2 separate regions of the Homo sapiens genome follow, and region 2 is linked to region 1. Evidence: fine-mapped expression QTL. A gene starts in region 1. The other region holds a variant in brackets. All regions are shown on one strand. Distances are between the middles of the regions. Region 1 holds the start of CCR8 (C-C motif chemokine receptor 8). Region 2 has its middle 21 kb from the start of SLC25A38.

What was found.
Region 2: its variant is fine-mapped to the expression of CCR8 in whole blood (TOPMed, PIP above 0.99). The same link has a PIP of 0.9 or more in T cells and lung.

What each region holds. Positions count from the first base shown.
Region 1 is chr3:39,324,796-39,333,530 of GRCh38, forward strand. It overlaps CCR8 (C-C motif chemokine receptor 8), which reads left to right and starts at 4,914. Exons shown (of 2, transcript NM_005201.4): 1 at 4,914-5,034; 2 at 7,523-8,735. The coding sequence starts at 7,537. The coding sequence ends at 8,604. RefSeq lists enhancers at 3,056-3,145, 3,496-3,585.
Region 2 is chr3:39,358,323-39,367,057 of GRCh38, forward strand. It overlaps the pseudogene EEF1A1P24. Among named protein-coding and RNA genes, the nearest start is that of SLC25A38, 21 kb to the right of the region's middle. RefSeq lists an enhancer at 3,173-3,402. The variant A/T (reference allele first, on the strand shown) is at 4,515.

The DNA.
Region 1 (8,735 bases):
GGGAATAAAACAGTATTTCACAAACCCCTCTTCTATGCAGAGGAACAGGGTAAATATTATCAGGAGTGAAGAAGAGAAGTATCTTGACATTCTACGTTTACCCTTAACTTGTGAGCATTTTTCCTGGGCAGAGGCGAACTCTTCCTAGTTTCCCCTTAAGAGTTTTTCATGTGGCCCAGGTACTGAACATAAGATAGACTTGGAGAGGCCATTGGTTCTGGAGGACTCACACTACTTTGGCCTCATATTTTTTTTTTCTCCCCAACTTCATAATGATAAACTCAGGCTTCCTTTGTGTACCACTTTTGGCAATGCAGGTGCTTTTTGCAAGTCAATGGGAGAGAATTACAAGTGTGGCTTATTAAATTGATCTCCAATTTAATCAATAAATCATTCACAACATGAAAATGTGTTTGCTTTGAATTAGTGCTTGATAGCAATTTTCTATTTCCTAAAAACTTGTAATTGAAATGACAGCGTGCCTTTATTAAAGAGAATTTTAAGAATAAAAAGAAATAACCTAATATAAGATTGTTTTAATTTCTGCCTATTTCATTCTGGATGTACCCACACTCATCCATGCTTCGCAAAGAGACAGTCATAGTATACATGCCACCTTAATCATAAAGATTTCTCTGGGTTTCTACATGGTTTTCACAGTGATACTTTTTCCTTTCATTATTCATCATTCTTCAGAGAACCATCACCTCCTGGGACTCCTGTGATGAAAGTGCCATGATTGCTAAGCTCCTTAAGTGAGGAAATCATAAATTTCATTTTTTTATCCCTTCTAATGGCAAAAGCAGTTCTGAGAATATGCTAGGCACTTCAGTGCTTGTAGCCTTGGAAAAAGGTGGTGAGCATGTTTGTAGAAGATAAATTCTGGGAATAAAGCACCACCAAAAGGCTAAGAGATTTAGCCGGGCATGGTGGCATGCACCTGTAGTCCCAGCCAATCTGGAGGCTGAGGCAGGAGAGTCTCTTGAACCTGGGAGGTGGAGGCTGCAGTGAGTTGAGATCATGCTGCTACAGTCCAGCCTGGGCCACAGAGGAAGACTCTGTCTCAAAAAAAAAAAAAAAAAGAAAGGCCGGGCACAGTGGTTCATGCCTGTAATCCCAGCACTTTGGGAGGCTGAGGCGGGTGGATCACCTGAGGTCATGAGTTAGAGACCAGCCTGGCCAACATGGTAAAACCCCGTTTCTACTAAAAATACCAAAAATTAGCCAGGTGTAGTGGCGGGCGCCTATAATCCCAGCTACTAGGGAGGCTGAGACAGGAGAATCACTTGAACCCAGGAGGCAGAGGTTGCAGTGAGCTAAGATTGCACCATTGTACTCCAGCCTGGGCAACAAGAGCAAAACTCCGTCTCAAACAAAACAAAACAAACCACTAAGAGATCTAATCAATTATTCTGGCACACAAGGTAATATGAATTTCCTGAAAATGCAACTAAAAATACGTTATTAACCACATTTCTCCATATTCAACCCTTCAAATCAAAATTATGATGATACCTTTTTTTGTATTCTGACAATTGTCATGATTACTCTTATGAAGGAAATAAATAGTAGTAAAAAAGAAAATCTGTTTCTTGTTACTCTTTTTTGTAATCCATATGGGAAATTAAATTATATAGACAGCAAAACTGGCTTTACTATTAATAACACACGAGCTTTTCTTAAACTCTGGCTTTGTCTAACACTTTTCGTTAAGCAAATGCATTTTTACCCTACAAATCACTGAGGGACTGACATATAGTTGAAAACTATAGAAAATACAGAAAGACTTCCTCTAGTCTTATCCACAACTCTTCATAATGTTATTGCACGAGAATTTTGAATGTGGTGCAGTAAGAAAAGCACCCTCAGCTGTGCCTCGGAAGACCTGAGTTCTGGCTCTGGCTCTACCACCAAATTACTGTGTGATTTTGGGTGAGCCACTTTGCCTCTCTGGACTTAAATATTACTACTTTGAAAGAAAGAGAGGGAGAGAGACATCAGCTGTATGACCTGAGGCCATTTTCTGCCCTAATACTCTATGACAAATATCTGTGATAGTAGTAATTTCTACATTTACACTTAGGGTTTATTTAAATACAGTTTTTTCTTTCTCTTTATTTTGGAGGAAAGGAGGTCAAATATGCTGCTAGTCTCTTTTTCCCTCTGAAGTGAAATACAGTCTTTTGAACCTTTGGAGGGACCCAGTAGAATTGAATTTAGATGGGATGTCCCCAATGGATCTGATCCAGCATTTTCAGAACCCATTGAATGTGCAGCAGAAGGTAGACTTGGAGAGGCCATTGGCTCTGGAGGGGTCACACTACTTTGGTTTTGTAGTTTGGTTTCTGCTGCCTTCCCATAGAATGCCTGAATCCCTGATGTAGGCCCAAAGGTGAGGAACCAAGGCTTGTCAGTTAACTATGTCACAGTTTGTCTGTCTTCCGAGTCAGGATGTTGTGGGTTGAATAATGGTCAACCAAAGAGATGAAGTCTTAATTCCTAGAACTTGTAAATGTTACTTTACTTGGGAGAAGAGCTTCTGCAGATGTGATTAAGTCAAGGATTTTGAGATGGGGAGATTATCATGGATTACCTGGACGGATCCTAAATCCAATCATGAGTGTTCTCATAAATCAGAGGTGGGTGAGATCTGATGCAGACACACAGTGGAGAAGGAGATGTGAAGATGGTGGAGATTAAAGTGATGTGGCCACAAGCCCCAGGTTTGCTGGGGCAGCCACCAAGAGCCAGAAGTGGCAAGGAACAATTCGCCCTTCAAGCACCCAGAAGGAGGCAGCCCTGCTGGATTATAGCCATCTGGCCTCCAGAACTGGGGGAGAATACACGTCTGCTGCTCTAAGCCACTAAGTTGGTGGTAATTTGTTACAGCAGCCACAGGAAACAAATACACAGGTGACAGCAGGCAAGTGTCCAGTCCTGCAGGGGCCCACACCAGCCCTCAGATCTGGCTCAGGAAACACAAAAAGAGGAGCATCCTTCCATTCTGGCTGTTCAGTCCTTTCCTCCAACTCTTCACCAGACTCCACATCTCCACCTTGCCTCATTCTCTCTGTTCAACTATTTATTAAGAAGTTGCTGTGCACTAAGCACTGTGCCAAGTATGGAGGAGCAGCTGATAAAAGAATCCTCAGGAACTGAAGATAGAGACTGTTTGGGGTTTAGATCAGCTTGCACTAGAAACTGGGCTTGGGGGGAATTCCACCTTAGTCCCTCAGGCCTTGCTTAACTGGGCTTTGGAGGGGAAGGTGGCTTCCCCCACACCTGCCCTCACTGATGAGGCGGTCCCATAGTTCCCACCATCATGACATGGACTAGTAATACCTGAGGGCCCTGAGTTCTCCATCGGCTCACCATTGATCTTTGCTTATCACATACAAAACTCTCATAAAGGAACTGGGTTTTCCCCAAACTGCGTCAAAACATGAATGATGGTGAGGGGAATTTGCCGAGGTATGAATTCAGGTACCAGCAGATATTTCCTTTTATTTTTTCTTTAGAGACAGGTCAGTGGCTCAATCATAGCTCACCTCAAACTGCTGGACTCAAGTGATCCTCCCACTTTAGCTTCCCAAGTAGCTGGGACTACAAGTGCATGCCACCATGCCTGGCTAATTTTATTTAAAAAATTTGTACAGATGATGCATTAGTCCGTTGTCACACTGCTATAAAGAAAGACCAAGATTGGATAATTTATAAAGGAAAGAGGTTAAATTGACTCACAGTTCTGCATTGCTGGGGAGGCCTCAAGAAACTTATAATCATGGTGGAAGGCAAAGGAGAAGCAGGCACATTTTTCACAGGTCGGCAGGATGGAGTGAGTGCAAGCAGGGAAAATGCCAGGTGTTTATAAAACCATCAGATCAGATCTCTTGAGACTCACTCACTATCATGAGAACAGCATGGGGGAAACTGCCCCCATGATCCAATTAACTCCACCTGGTCCCGCCCTTGACACATGGGGATTATGAGGATTATAATTCAAGATGAGATTTGGGTAGGGACACAGAGCCAAACCGTATGAGATGGGGTCTTGCTATGTTGACCAGTCTGGTCTTGAACTCCTAGGCTCAAGCAATCCTCCTGCCTCAGCCTCCCAAAATGCTGGAATTACAGATGTGAGCCACCGTACCTGGCATCCAGCAGATATTTCTACTGCATTTCTCCAGGAATGAGTGGGTTGGAGATGAGGAGATTCTGGAACTTCTGTCATTTCCTCCCAACAATTCTGGGACTCATGTTCACTCTCCTGGGATAGGGGAAACTGACTTAAAGTGATTTTCAAATGGCATTCCTGTTGAAAGAGTTAATATATGTACATGCATACAACATACACACACATTTGTGTATGCTACATACCATGGAGGAAAGCCAGTCCTGGTATAAATTGTATAACTTCAAAATAATAATGGAATTATGATTTCATTTTAATACTGATTTCAATTAAAAATTTTAATAGACTATTTTTTAGAGGTTTTAAGTTTACAGAAAATCTAGGTAGACAACACAGAAAATTCCCATTAACCCCTGTATTAGTCTGCTAGGACTTCCATAACAAAATACTACAGGCTGAGTAGCTTAAACAACAGAAATTTGTTTTCCCACAGTTCTGGAGGCTAGAAGACCAAGGTGCCCACAAGTCTGGTTTCTGGTGATGCCTATTTACCTTACTTGCAGATGGCTGCCTTCTCCCTGTGTCCTCACATGGCCTTTCCTCTGAGCACCTGGAGGCAAGAGAGTGAGCTCTGGTGTGTATTCCTCTACCTAGGAGACACCAGTCCTATTGAATTAGGGCCTCAGCCTTACGATCTCATTTAACCCTCATTGCCTCCCTTTAGGTGACTAGGTGTGAGGGTGGAGCCCTCAAGAGACTGCCTTCTCTCCATCTGCTGTTTGTAGTGGGAGGATACCTCCAGAGAGGCTGCTGCTCATTGAGCTGCACTCACATGAGGATACAGACTTTGTGAAGAAGGAATTGGCAACACTGAAACCTCCAGAACAAAGGCTGTCACTAAGGTATGTGCTACAAGCATCCTTGGGGAAGAAGGGCATGAGTAGGCAGGGGCATTTTTATATCTTTAGAGGATAGGCAAAGGGAAGACCAAAATTTCAGAGGTCTAGCACAAGAAGTAAAATTTTTTTTTAAATCTTTGCATTTCCTCAGAGCCCACAAACATGCATGTGTCTTAGTGGCTGCCCATGCTCTGGCTGAGGAGAGCAAACCGTGCCATATTCTCTGCAGGCCTTTAGGAGAGAGTGAAAACTCCTACAAGAGTGGGAAGGTAGATAAGAGAAGATCCTTTATAATACCAGGCATCTGGGAAGATCTGTCCTTGTGCTGGGTACAGGGCTTCTATCAGGTAACTGAAGGACACCTGGGTGCTGTTCTTAAGGAAAGAAGCCAGCGAGCAAACTTTCATATGACTAAAGAAGTTGCTGGTGGGTGCCTGTAGTCCCAGCTACTCAAGAGCCTGGGGCAGAAGGATTGCTTGCGCCCAGAAGTCAGGGCTTTGTGTGAGATCACACCTGCGTATAACTACTGTACTCCAGCTTGGGCAACATAGTGAGACCCTGTCTCTAAAAAAATAAATAAATTGCTTGCTTGCTTGCTTGTGCTTTCAAATCATAGAAAAGTAGCAGAGTGGAGAGGGGTGTCTGAATGTAAAGCAAACAAATGCCTTGGAAAAATATGTCTGGATTGAAATTGCATTGAATGTATATATCAATTTGAGAAGAATTGTCAAGTTTTATAATTTTTATGTAACTGAATTGCATTTTTATTAGTTTTATTCCTAGTAATGCTAGTAATTTTCATTGCTAGTATAATTGGGATCATTTTTCTATTGCATTTATAAAGTTATTTTTTTTCTGGTGCTTAGGAAAGCAATTAAAAGAATAAACTGATGAATATCATGCAGATATATCTCTAAAACAATAAGCAAAATACAAAGGGAAAAACAATATATCATTTATGTAAGTTAAAACAATATATCATTTATGTAAGTTAAAACACACAAAAATATATATTGTTTATGGATATATATAAATATGTAAAAGTACAGGGGGAAATTGTTTGGAATGATACATACCAAATTGGTTTTAGTTGTTGTTTCTGTTATGGGGATAAGTTGTGTAGTTAAAGGGAACATTAGCTTCATCTCTATTGCATCAGAAATAAAAAAAGAAAGAGGGATGGAAGGAAGAGAGGGAATGAGGGAGGGAGAAAAGAAGGGAGAAAAAAAGAAGGAAGGAAGGAAAAAAAAATAACCCAAAGCATTGTGAGAATATGTTAGCAGCTGCTAATTCTAGGTGATGGAACTATGGGTATTTACATTTTCTTTGTAAGTTTTGGCTTTTCTCATCTCAGCTGACTCCCTTTGGTTTACATAACAAAATACAATAGACTGAGTGGCTTAAACAACAGAAAGTGTTGTTTAACATACTTCTAAAGGCTGGAAGTCCAAGACCAAGCTGCCAATGCAGTTGATTTCTGGTGAGGCTTCTCTACCTGGCTTGCTGATTTCAGCCTTCTTGCTGTGTCCTCACATGGTCTTTACTCCATGCACAAGGGGAGCAAAATTTCTTGTGTCTCTTTCTCTTCTGTTAAGGACACTAGTTCTATCAGATTAGGGCCCTGCCTTTTTTGGTTTTGTTTCTGTTTTCTTTTTTTTGAGACAGAGTCTCACTCTGTCACCCAGGCTGGAGTACAGTGGCTTGATCTCGAGTCATTGCAACCCCTGCTTCCTGGGTTCAAGAAATTGTCGTGCCTCAGCCTCCCGAGGTAGCTTGGATTACAGGCATGTGGCACCATGCCTGGCTAATTTTTGTAATTTTAGTAGAGACGGGGTTTTGCACTGTTGGCCAGGCTTGTCTCGAACTCCTGGCCTCAAGCAATCCGCCTACCTTGGCCTCCCAAAGTGCTGGGATTACAGGTGTGAGTCACTGTGAGAGCCAGGGCCCTGCCTTTATAACCTCATTTAACCTTTTTTTTTTTTTTTTAATTTTAATTTTTTTTTTTTTTTTTGAGACAGAATCTCACTCTGTCGCCCAGGATGGAGTGCAGTGGTGTGATCTCGGCTCACAGCAACCTCCACCTCTTCGGTTCAAGTGATTCTTCTGCCTCAGCCTCCTGAGTAGCTAGGATTACAGGCATGCACCCGCCATGCCCGGCTAATTTTTGTATTTTTAGTAGAGACGGGGTTTCGCCATGTTGGCAAGGCTGGTCTTGAACCCCTGACCTCAGGTGATCTGCCCACCTTGGCCTCCCAAAGTGCTAGGATTACAGGCATGAGCCACAGCTCCCGGTCTATCATTTAACCTTAATTACATCTTTAAAGGCCCAAATAGTCTCACCCACTCCAAATAGTCACACCCACACCGGAGGTTGAGCACTTCAACACATGAATTTGGGGAGGACACAGTTCAGTCCATAACATCCCCCTAATTTTTAAAAAATAAAAATGTTTTTAAGGAGTGAATGTCTTTTATGTGTCTCTGTGACCAGGTCCCGCTGCCTTGATGGATTATACACTTGACCTCAGTGTGACAACAGTGACCGACTACTACTACCCTGATATCTTCTCAAGCCCCTGTGATGCGGAACTTATTCAGACAAATGGCAAGTTGCTCCTTGCTGTCTTTTATTGCCTCCTGTTTGTATTCAGTCTTCTGGGAAACAGCCTGGTCATCCTGGTCCTTGTGGTCTGCAAGAAGCTGAGGAGCATCACAGATGTATACCTCTTGAACCTGGCCCTGTCTGACCTGCTTTTTGTCTTCTCCTTCCCCTTTCAGACCTACTATCTGCTGGACCAGTGGGTGTTTGGGACTGTAATGTGCAAAGTGGTGTCTGGCTTTTATTACATTGGCTTCTACAGCAGCATGTTTTTCATCACCCTCATGAGTGTGGACAGGTACCTGGCTGTTGTCCATGCCGTGTATGCCCTAAAGGTGAGGACGATCAGGATGGGCACAACGCTGTGCCTGGCAGTATGGCTAACCGCCATTATGGCTACCATCCCATTGCTAGTGTTTTACCAAGTGGCCTCTGAAGATGGTGTTCTACAGTGTTATTCATTTTACAATCAACAGACTTTGAAGTGGAAGATCTTCACCAACTTCAAAATGAACATTTTAGGCTTGTTGATCCCATTCACCATCTTTATGTTCTGCTACATTAAAATCCTGCACCAGCTGAAGAGGTGTCAAAACCACAACAAGACCAAGGCCATCAGGTTGGTGCTCATTGTGGTCATTGCATCTTTACTTTTCTGGGTCCCATTCAACGTGGTTCTTTTCCTCACTTCCTTGCACAGTATGCACATCTTGGATGGATGTAGCATAAGCCAACAGCTGACTTATGCCACCCATGTCACAGAAATCATTTCCTTTACTCACTGCTGTGTGAACCCTGTTATCTATGCTTTTGTTGGGGAGAAGTTCAAGAAACACCTCTCAGAAATATTTCAGAAAAGTTGCAGCCAAATCTTCAACTACCTAGGAAGACAAATGCCTAGGGAGAGCTGTGAAAAGTCATCATCCTGCCAGCAGCACTCCTCCCGTTCCTCCAGCGTAGACTACATTTTGTGAGGATCAATGAAGACTAAATATAAAAAACATTTTCTTGAATGGCATGCTAGTAGCAGTGAGCAAAGGTGTGGGTGTGAAAGGTTTCCAAAAAAAGTTCAGCATGAAGGATGCCATATATGTTGTTGCCAACA
Region 2 (8,735 bases), 34 kb after region 1:
GATCACACCACTGTTCTCCAGCCTCAGCAGTAGAGCAAGACTCTGCCTCAAAAAAAAAAAAAAAAAAAAAACAAACAAAAAAAAAAAACAAAAAACCTACAGTGAGATACCATCTCACCACAGTTAAAACGGCTTTCTTTTTTATCAAAAAGAAAGGAGCTTTTTCACACTGGTTTTGCCACCAGAACACAGGTGTTGTGAAAACTACCCCTAAAAGCAACAATGGGAATGGAAAAGACTCATATCAACATTGTTGTCATTGGACATGTAGATTTGGGCAAGTCCACCACTACTGGTCATCTGATCTACAAATGCGGTGGCATCGACAAAAGAACCACTGAAAAATTTGAGATGGAGGCTGTTGAGATGGAAAAGGCTCCTTCAAGTATGCCTGGGTCTTGGATAAGCTGAAAGCTGAGCGTGAACATGGTATCACCATTGATATCTCCTTGTGGAAATTTGATACCAGCAAATACTACGTGACTATCATTGATGCCCCAGGACACAGAGACTTCATCAAAAACATGATTACAGGGATGTCTCAGGCTGATTGTGCTGTCCTGATTGTTGCTGCTGGTGTTGCTGAATTTGAAGCTGGTATCTCCAAGAATGGGCAGACCCAAGAGCATGCCCTCCTGTCTTACACACTGGGTGTGAAACAACTAATTGTTGGTGTTAACAAAATGGATTCCACTGAGCCACTCTACAGCCAGAAGAGATATGAGGAGATCATTAAGGAAGTCAGCACTTACATTAAGAAAATTGGCTACAACCCTGACACAGTAGCATTTGTGCCAATTTCTGGTTGGAATGGTGACAACATGCTGGAGTCAAGTGATAACATGCCTTAGTTCAAGAGATGGAAAGTCACCCATAAGGATGGCAATGCCAGTGGAACCATGCTGCTTGAGGCTCTGGACTGCATCCTACCACCAACTCATCCAACTGACAAGCCTTTGTGCCTGCATCTCCAGGATGTCCACAAAATTGGTGGCATTTGTACTGTTTCTGTTGGCTGAGTGGATACTGGTGTTCTCAAACCTGGTATGGTGGTCACCTTTGCTCCAGCCAACATTACAATGAAATAAAATCTGTCAAAATGCACCATGAAGCTTTGAGTGAAGCTCTTCCTGGGGACAATGTGGGCTTCAATGTCAAGAATATGTCTGTCAAGGATGTTCATCGTGGCAATTGACAGCAAAAATGACCCACCAATGGAGTCAGCTAGCTTCACTGCTCATGTGATTATCCCGAACCATCCAGGCCAAATCAGCGCTGGCTATGCCGCTGTACTGTATTGCCACATGGTCCACATTGCATGCAAGATTGCTGAGCTGAAGGAAAAGATTGATTGCCGTTCTGGTAAAAAGCCAGAAGATTGCCCTAAATTCTTGAAGTCTGATGATGCTGCCATCATTGACATGGTTCCTGGCAAGCCCATGTGTGTTGAGAGCTTCTCATACTAAACACCTCTGGGTCGCTTTGCTGTTTGTGATATGAGACAGACAGTTGCCGTGGGTGTCATCAAAGCAGTGGACAAGAAGGCTGCTGGAGCTGGCAAGGTCACCAAGTTGCCCAGAAAGGTCAGAAGGCTAAATGAATATTATCCCTAATACCTGCCACCCGGTCTTAATCAGTGGTGGAAGAATGGTCTCAGAACTGTTTGTTTCAATTGGCCATTTAAGTTTAGTAGTAAAAGACTGGTTAATGATAACAATGCATCATAAAACCTTCAGATGGAAAGGAGAATGTTTTGTGGACCACTTTGGTTTTCTTTTTTGCATCTGGCAGTTTTAAGTTATTAGTTTTTAAAATCAGTACTTTTTAATGGAAACAACTTGACCAAAAATCTGTTACAGAATTTTGAGACCCATTAAAAAGGTTTAATGAGAAAAAAAAAAAAAAAAGAAAGGGAATAACAGATATTGGCATGGATGTGGAGAAAGAGGAACCCTCATACACTGTTGATGGGAAGATAAATTAGTACAGCCATTATGGAAAATAGTGTGGAGTTTCCTCAAAAAACTAAAAAATAGGCCAGGCATGGTGGCTCATGCCTGTAATCTCAGCACTTTGGGAGGCCGAGGCGGGTGGATCACCTGAGGTCAGGAGTTTGAGACCAGCCTGGCCAACATGGTAAAACCCTGTCTCTATAAAAAATACAAAAAATTAGTTGGGCATGGTGGCAGGTGCCTGTAATCCCAGCTACTCGGGAGGCTGAGGCATGAGAATCACTTGAACCCAGGAGGTGGAGGTTGAAGTGAGCCAAGATGGCACCATTGCACTCCAGCCTGGGTGACAGAGCAAGACTCTGTCTCAAAAAAAAAAAAAAAAACACAAAAAAACTAAAACTAAAAAATAGAACTACCATATGATCCAGCAATTTCACTATTGGGTATATAGCCAAAAGAAAGGAAATCAATACATCAAAGAGGGATCTGGATTCCCATGTTTATTGCAGCACCCTTCACAATAGCCAAAATATGGAATTGATCTAAGTACTCCTCAGTAGATGATTCAATAAAGAAAACAGGTGTGTGTGTGTGTGTGTGTGTGTATATATATATATAATATGTATATATATAAAATATGTATATATAATATGTATATATATATGCAATGAATCATTATTCAGCTATCTAAATAATGAAATCTTGTCATTTGCATCAACATGTTAAGTAAAATAAGCCAAGCACAGAAAGACAAATATCACATGTTCTCACTCATATGTGGGAGCTATAAAAGTGGATTTTATGGAGATAGAAAGTTGACTGGTGGTTACCAGAGGTAGGAAAGTATGGGTACAGGGGGAATGAAGACAGGTTAATTAATGGATACAAATATACAGTTAGATAGAAGTAAGACATGGTAGTCAATAGATCAGTAGGGTGACTATAGTTAACATTAATCAATTGAACATTTCAAAATAGCTGGAAAACAATAATATGAATGTTCCTAGTGTAAAGAAAAGATAAATATTTAAGATGATAGATATCCAAGGATTCCCGCAGGTAGTTAGAAAGAGACCACAGACATTGAGGGAAGCTCACTCAGTATCTGCTCCTCACCCTGTCTCTCTGGCAAAGTAGTAAGCGAGGTGCTGAGCAGAATGAGCTACTTTGTGGTTTCCACTGTGAGCAGCCCTGTCCCTCATTCAGTGACTTGTCCTGCAGTGGTGATGGCCGAATAGAAGCAGCTGTGGTCCGCAGCACTCACAGAGAGTAAGGAAAATCGCAAGTGGATTTAGCACCTTCAACTGAAATATCCAGGTTCTCACAATGGGACTGACTAGAAAATTAACCTGACTCAAGGAGAATGAAGAAAAGCAGGTTGGGGCAATGACCCACCCGGGAGTAGCACAAAGCCAAAGGAACCCCCACCCCCAGCCAAAGGAAGTGGTGAGTGATCATGCAACCCTGCCCAGGAAACCATGCTTCTCCCACAGATCTTTGCAGCCCACAGATCAGGAGATCCCCTCGTGAGCCCACACCTCTAGGGCCTTGGGTCCTATACACAGAGCTGTGTGGGGCCTTGGCAGAGCAGCCACTCAGGCACTCGCAGAGACCCAAGACTTTTACATACTCTAGCCCCAAAATCCCTGGTGAGGCAGCAGATCTGTTCATACATTCCCCTAGGAAGGGGGCTGAATCCAGGGAACCAAGAAGTGTCATTCTGCAGGCCCCACTTCCACAGCACCTCACAAGTTAAGACACACTGGCTTGGAATTCCAGCCAGCCAGGGGCAACAGGCTGAGCCCACCTGAGATAGGAAGGAGTTCCCAGGGGAGGGGTGGGCACTATTTTCATAGTGCGGTCAACTAGTATTCCAGCCTGCCAGCTCTGGAGAGTGTAGGTGGTCAGGACAAGAGGGAACCCCCTAATGCAGCACATTTGACTTGCCAGATTGTGCCCAGACTGCCTCTGTAAGCAGACCCCGATCAAGTCCTCCTCACTGGGTGGGGTCTTCCTGTGGGAAGCCTTCAGTTACTCCAGCCAGTATTATAAAGACCTGATCTCTCCCTGGGAGGGAACTTGGTGGGGGCAGGGTAGGCGGCAGGGATGGCTTCCATATCTGCACTTCAGTTGACTCAGCTATTCAAGCCTGCCAGCTCTGGAGAGTCTAGGCATCTGGACAAAGAGTAGCCTTGTCAACACAGCAAACCTGCTCTACCAAAAAGCAGCTGGACTGCTTCTGTAAGTGTTTCCTGAATTCTATTCCTCCTACCGGGTGAGACCTCCCAAGAGGGGTCTCCAGACACCTCCTACAAGAGTGTTCAGGCCAGGAAAAGGTCAGTAACCCCCGGGGACAGAGCTTCCAGAGGAAAGAGCAGGCTGGCATCTTTGCTGTTTCACAGACTTCACTGATGATACTTCCAGGTACAGGAAAAACTGAGGCAACTAGGGTCTGGAGTGGACCCCCAGAAAACCACAGCAGCCCTACGGTTGCTAAGTCAGTGCCCTGTTAAGAGAAAAACAAACAAATGGAAAACTATGACAACAATATCAACCAAAAAG[A/T]CCCCACAAAAAGCCCATTCAAAGGTCAGCAACCTCAAAGATTGCAGGCAGATAAGCCTACAAAACTGACACTGAATCAACAAAACAATTCTGAAAACTCAAAAAGGTGGAGTGCCTCTTCTCCAAATGACTGCAATAACTCTCCAGCAAGGGGAATGAACTGGGCAGAGGCTGACATGGCTGAATTGACAGAAGTAGGCTTCAGAAGATGGATATTAATGAACCTTGCGAGCTAAAGGAGCATGTTGTAACCCAATGCAAACAAGTTAAGAATCATGATGAAACAATACAGGAGCTACTAACTAGAATAGCCAGTTTAGAGAGGAACATAACTGACCTCACGGAGCTGAAAAACACAACATGAGAACTTCACAATGCAATCACAAGTATCAATAGCAGAATAGACCAAGCAGAGAAAAGAATCTCAGAGGTTGAACACTATCTTTCAGAAATAAGACAGACAGATGAGAAGAAGAAAAAATAATAACAAAGGGTTAACAAACTCTCTGAGAAATATGGGATTATGTAAAAAGACTGAACTTAGCACTGATTGGGGTACCTGAAAGAGACAGGGAGAACAGAACCAAGTTGGAAAACATACTTCAGGATATCATCCAGGAAAACTTCCCCAACCTAGCAAGACAGGCCAACATTCAAATACAGGAAACCCAGAGAACTCCAGTAAGATACTCCATGAGAAGATCAACCCCAAGACACATAATCATCAAATTCTTCAAGGTCAAAATGAAGGAAAAAATGTTAAGGGCAGCTAGAGAGAAAGGTCATGTCACCTAAAAATGGAAGCCCATCAGAGTAACAGTGGGACTCTCCGTGGAAACCCTATATGCCAGAAGACATTGGAGGCCAATATTTAACATTCTTAAAGAAAAGAATTACCAACCCAGAATTTAATATCTGGCCATACTAAGCTTCATAAGCGAAGGAGAAATGAGATCCTTTTCAGAAAAGCAAATGCTGAGGGAATTTGTCACCACCAGGCCTGCCTTGCAAGAGCTCCTGAAGGAAGCATTAAATATGAAAAGGAAAAATTGTTACCAGCCACTACAAAAACACACTGAAGTACACAGACTAGTGACACTATGAAGCAACTACATAAACAAGTCTGTAAAATAACCAGCTGACATCATGATGACAGGATCAAATTCACACATAAAAATATTAACCTTAAATGTAAATGGGCTAAATAAATGTCCCAATTAAAAGACACCAAGTGGCAAGCTGGCTAAAGAGGAGACCCATTGGTATGCTGTCTTCAAGGGAACCATCTCACATGCAAAGACACACATAGGCTCAAAAGAAAGGGATGGAGGAAAATTTACCAAGCAAATGGAAAACAGAAAAAAGCAGGGGTTGCAATCTTAGTTTCTGACAAAACAGACATTAAACCAAAGATCAAAAAAGACAAAGAAGGGCATCACACAGTGGTAAAGGGTTTGATTCAACAAGAAGAGATAACTATCCTAAATATATATGCACCCAATGCAGGAGCATCCAGATTCAATTCACAAAGCAAGTTCGTAGAGTCCTACAAAGAGATCTGGACTCCCACACAATAATAATGGGAAATTTTAACACCTCACTGTCAATATTAGGCAGATCATTGAGATAGAAAATTAACAAAGATATTCAGGACCTGAACTCAGCTCTGGATCAAGTGGACCTGATAAAACAGAACTCTCCACCCCAAAACAACAGAATATACATTCTTCTCATTGCCACATGGCACTTATCTAAAATTTATCACATAATCAGAAGTAAAACATTCAGCAAATGCAAAATAACTGAAATCATAACAGTCTCTCAGACTACAGCGAAATCAAATTAGAATTCAAGATTAAGAAATTCACTCAAAACCACACAACTACATTGAACAACCTGCTCCTGAATGACTCCTGGGTAAACAATAAAATTAAGGCAGAAATCGAGAAGTTCTTTGAAACTAATGAGAACCAAGAGACAACGTACCAGAATCTCAAGAATGCAGCTAAAGCAGTTTATAGCACTAAATGCCCACATCAAAAAACTAGAAAGATCTCTAATTAACAATCCAACATCACAACTAAAAGAACTAGAGAACCAAGAGCAAACAGATCCTAAAGCTAGCAGAAGACAAGAAATAATCAAGATCAGAGTTGAACTGAAGGAGATAGAGACATAAAAAACTCTTCAAAAAAAATCAGTGAATCCAGGAGGTGGTTTTTTGAAAAAATTAATCAAATAGATAGACTGTTACCTAGACTAATAAAGAAGAAAAGAGAAAATAATCAAATAAACACAATCAGAAATGATAAGGGGGATATTACCACTGACCCCACAGAAATATAAACAAACACTGGAGAATACTATAAACACCTCTATGCACATAAACTAGAAAATCTAGAAGAAACTGATAAACACCCTGCCAAGACTGAACCAGGAAGAAATTGAATCCCTGAATAGACCAATAATGAGTTCTGAAATTGAGGCAATAATAAATAGTCTACCAACCAAAAAAAGCCCAGGACCAGATGGATTCACAGCTTAATTCTACCAGAGGTACAAAGAAGAGCTGGTACCATTTCTGCTGAAACTATTTTAAAAAATTAAAAAGGAGGGACTCCTTCCTAACTCATTTTATGAGGCTAGTGTCATCCTGATATCAAAACCTGGCAGAGATACCACAAAAAAAGAAACCTTCAGGCCAATATCCCTGATGAACATTGATGCAAAAATCCGCAATAAAATACTGGCAAATCAAATCCAGACATTTATATAGTCAACAAACATATGAAAAAAAAACAAACTCAACATCACTGATCATTAGAGAAATGCAAATCAAAACCACATTGAGATACCATCTTACAACAATCAGAATAGCAATTATTAAAAAGTCAAAAACAACAGATGTGCTCTTGAGGTTGTGGAGAAATGGAAACGCTTTTGCACTGTCCGTGGGAGTGTAAATTAGTTCAACCATTGTAGAAGACAGTGTGGCAACTCCTCAAAGATCTAGAGGCAGAAGGACCATTTGACCCAGAAATCTCATTACTGGGTCCATACCCAAAGGAATGTAAATCATTCTATTATAAAGATACATGCATGCATATGTTCACTCCAGCACTATTCCCAATGGCAAAGACATGGAATCAACCCAAATGCCCATCAATGATAGACTAAGGAAAATTTAGTACATACACACCATGGAATACTATCCAGCCATAAAAAGGAAAAAGATCATGTCTTTTGCAGGAACATGGATGGAGCTGGAAGCTGTTATCCTCAGCAAACTAACACAGGAACAGAAAACCAAACATCACATGTCCTCACTTATAAATGGGAGCTGAATGATGAGAAGACAAGGACACACGGAGGGAACAACACCTACTGGGGGCTGTTGGGGGTGGGAGGTGGGGGAGGGAGAAGATCAGGAAGAATAGCTAATGGATGCTGGGCTTAATACCTAGGTAACGAGATGATCTGTGCAGCAAACCACCATGGCACACGTTTACCTCTGTAACAAACCTCCACATCCTGCACGTGTACCCCTGAACTTAAAATAAAGTTGAAGGAAAAAAAAAAGATGATAGATATCCCATCAACCTTGATTCGATTCTGTGACTGTATCAAATTATCACACACACTCCAAAAACATGTACATCTATTATGTATCAATAAAAGAAATACTAAGTGGAAATGATGAGAGTAGGAGGAATATATGGAAAGGAAGAAAGGAACACTCACATTTTTAAACACCTACTGTGAGCTAGGCACCTAATCAGCATTTTCTCACTTATTCTTTTTTTTTAAATTTTATTATTATTATACTTTAAGTTTTAGGGTACATGTGCACAACGTGCAGGTTTGTTACATATGTATACATGTGCCATGTTGGTGTGCTGCACCCAGTAACTCGTCATTTAGCATTAGGTATATCTCCTAATGCTATCCCTCCCCGCTCCCCCCACCCCACAACAGTCCCCGGTGTGAGATGTTCCCCTTCCTGTGTCCATGTGTTCTCACTGTTCAGTTCCCACCTATGAGTGAGAACATGCGGTGTTTGGTTTTTTGTCCTTGTGATAGTTTGCTGAGAATGATGGTTTCCAGTTTCATCCGTGTCCCTACAAAGGACATGAACTCATCATTTTTTATGGCTGCATAGTATTCCATGGTGTATATGTGCCACATCTTCTTAATCCAGTCTATCATTGTTGGACATTTAGG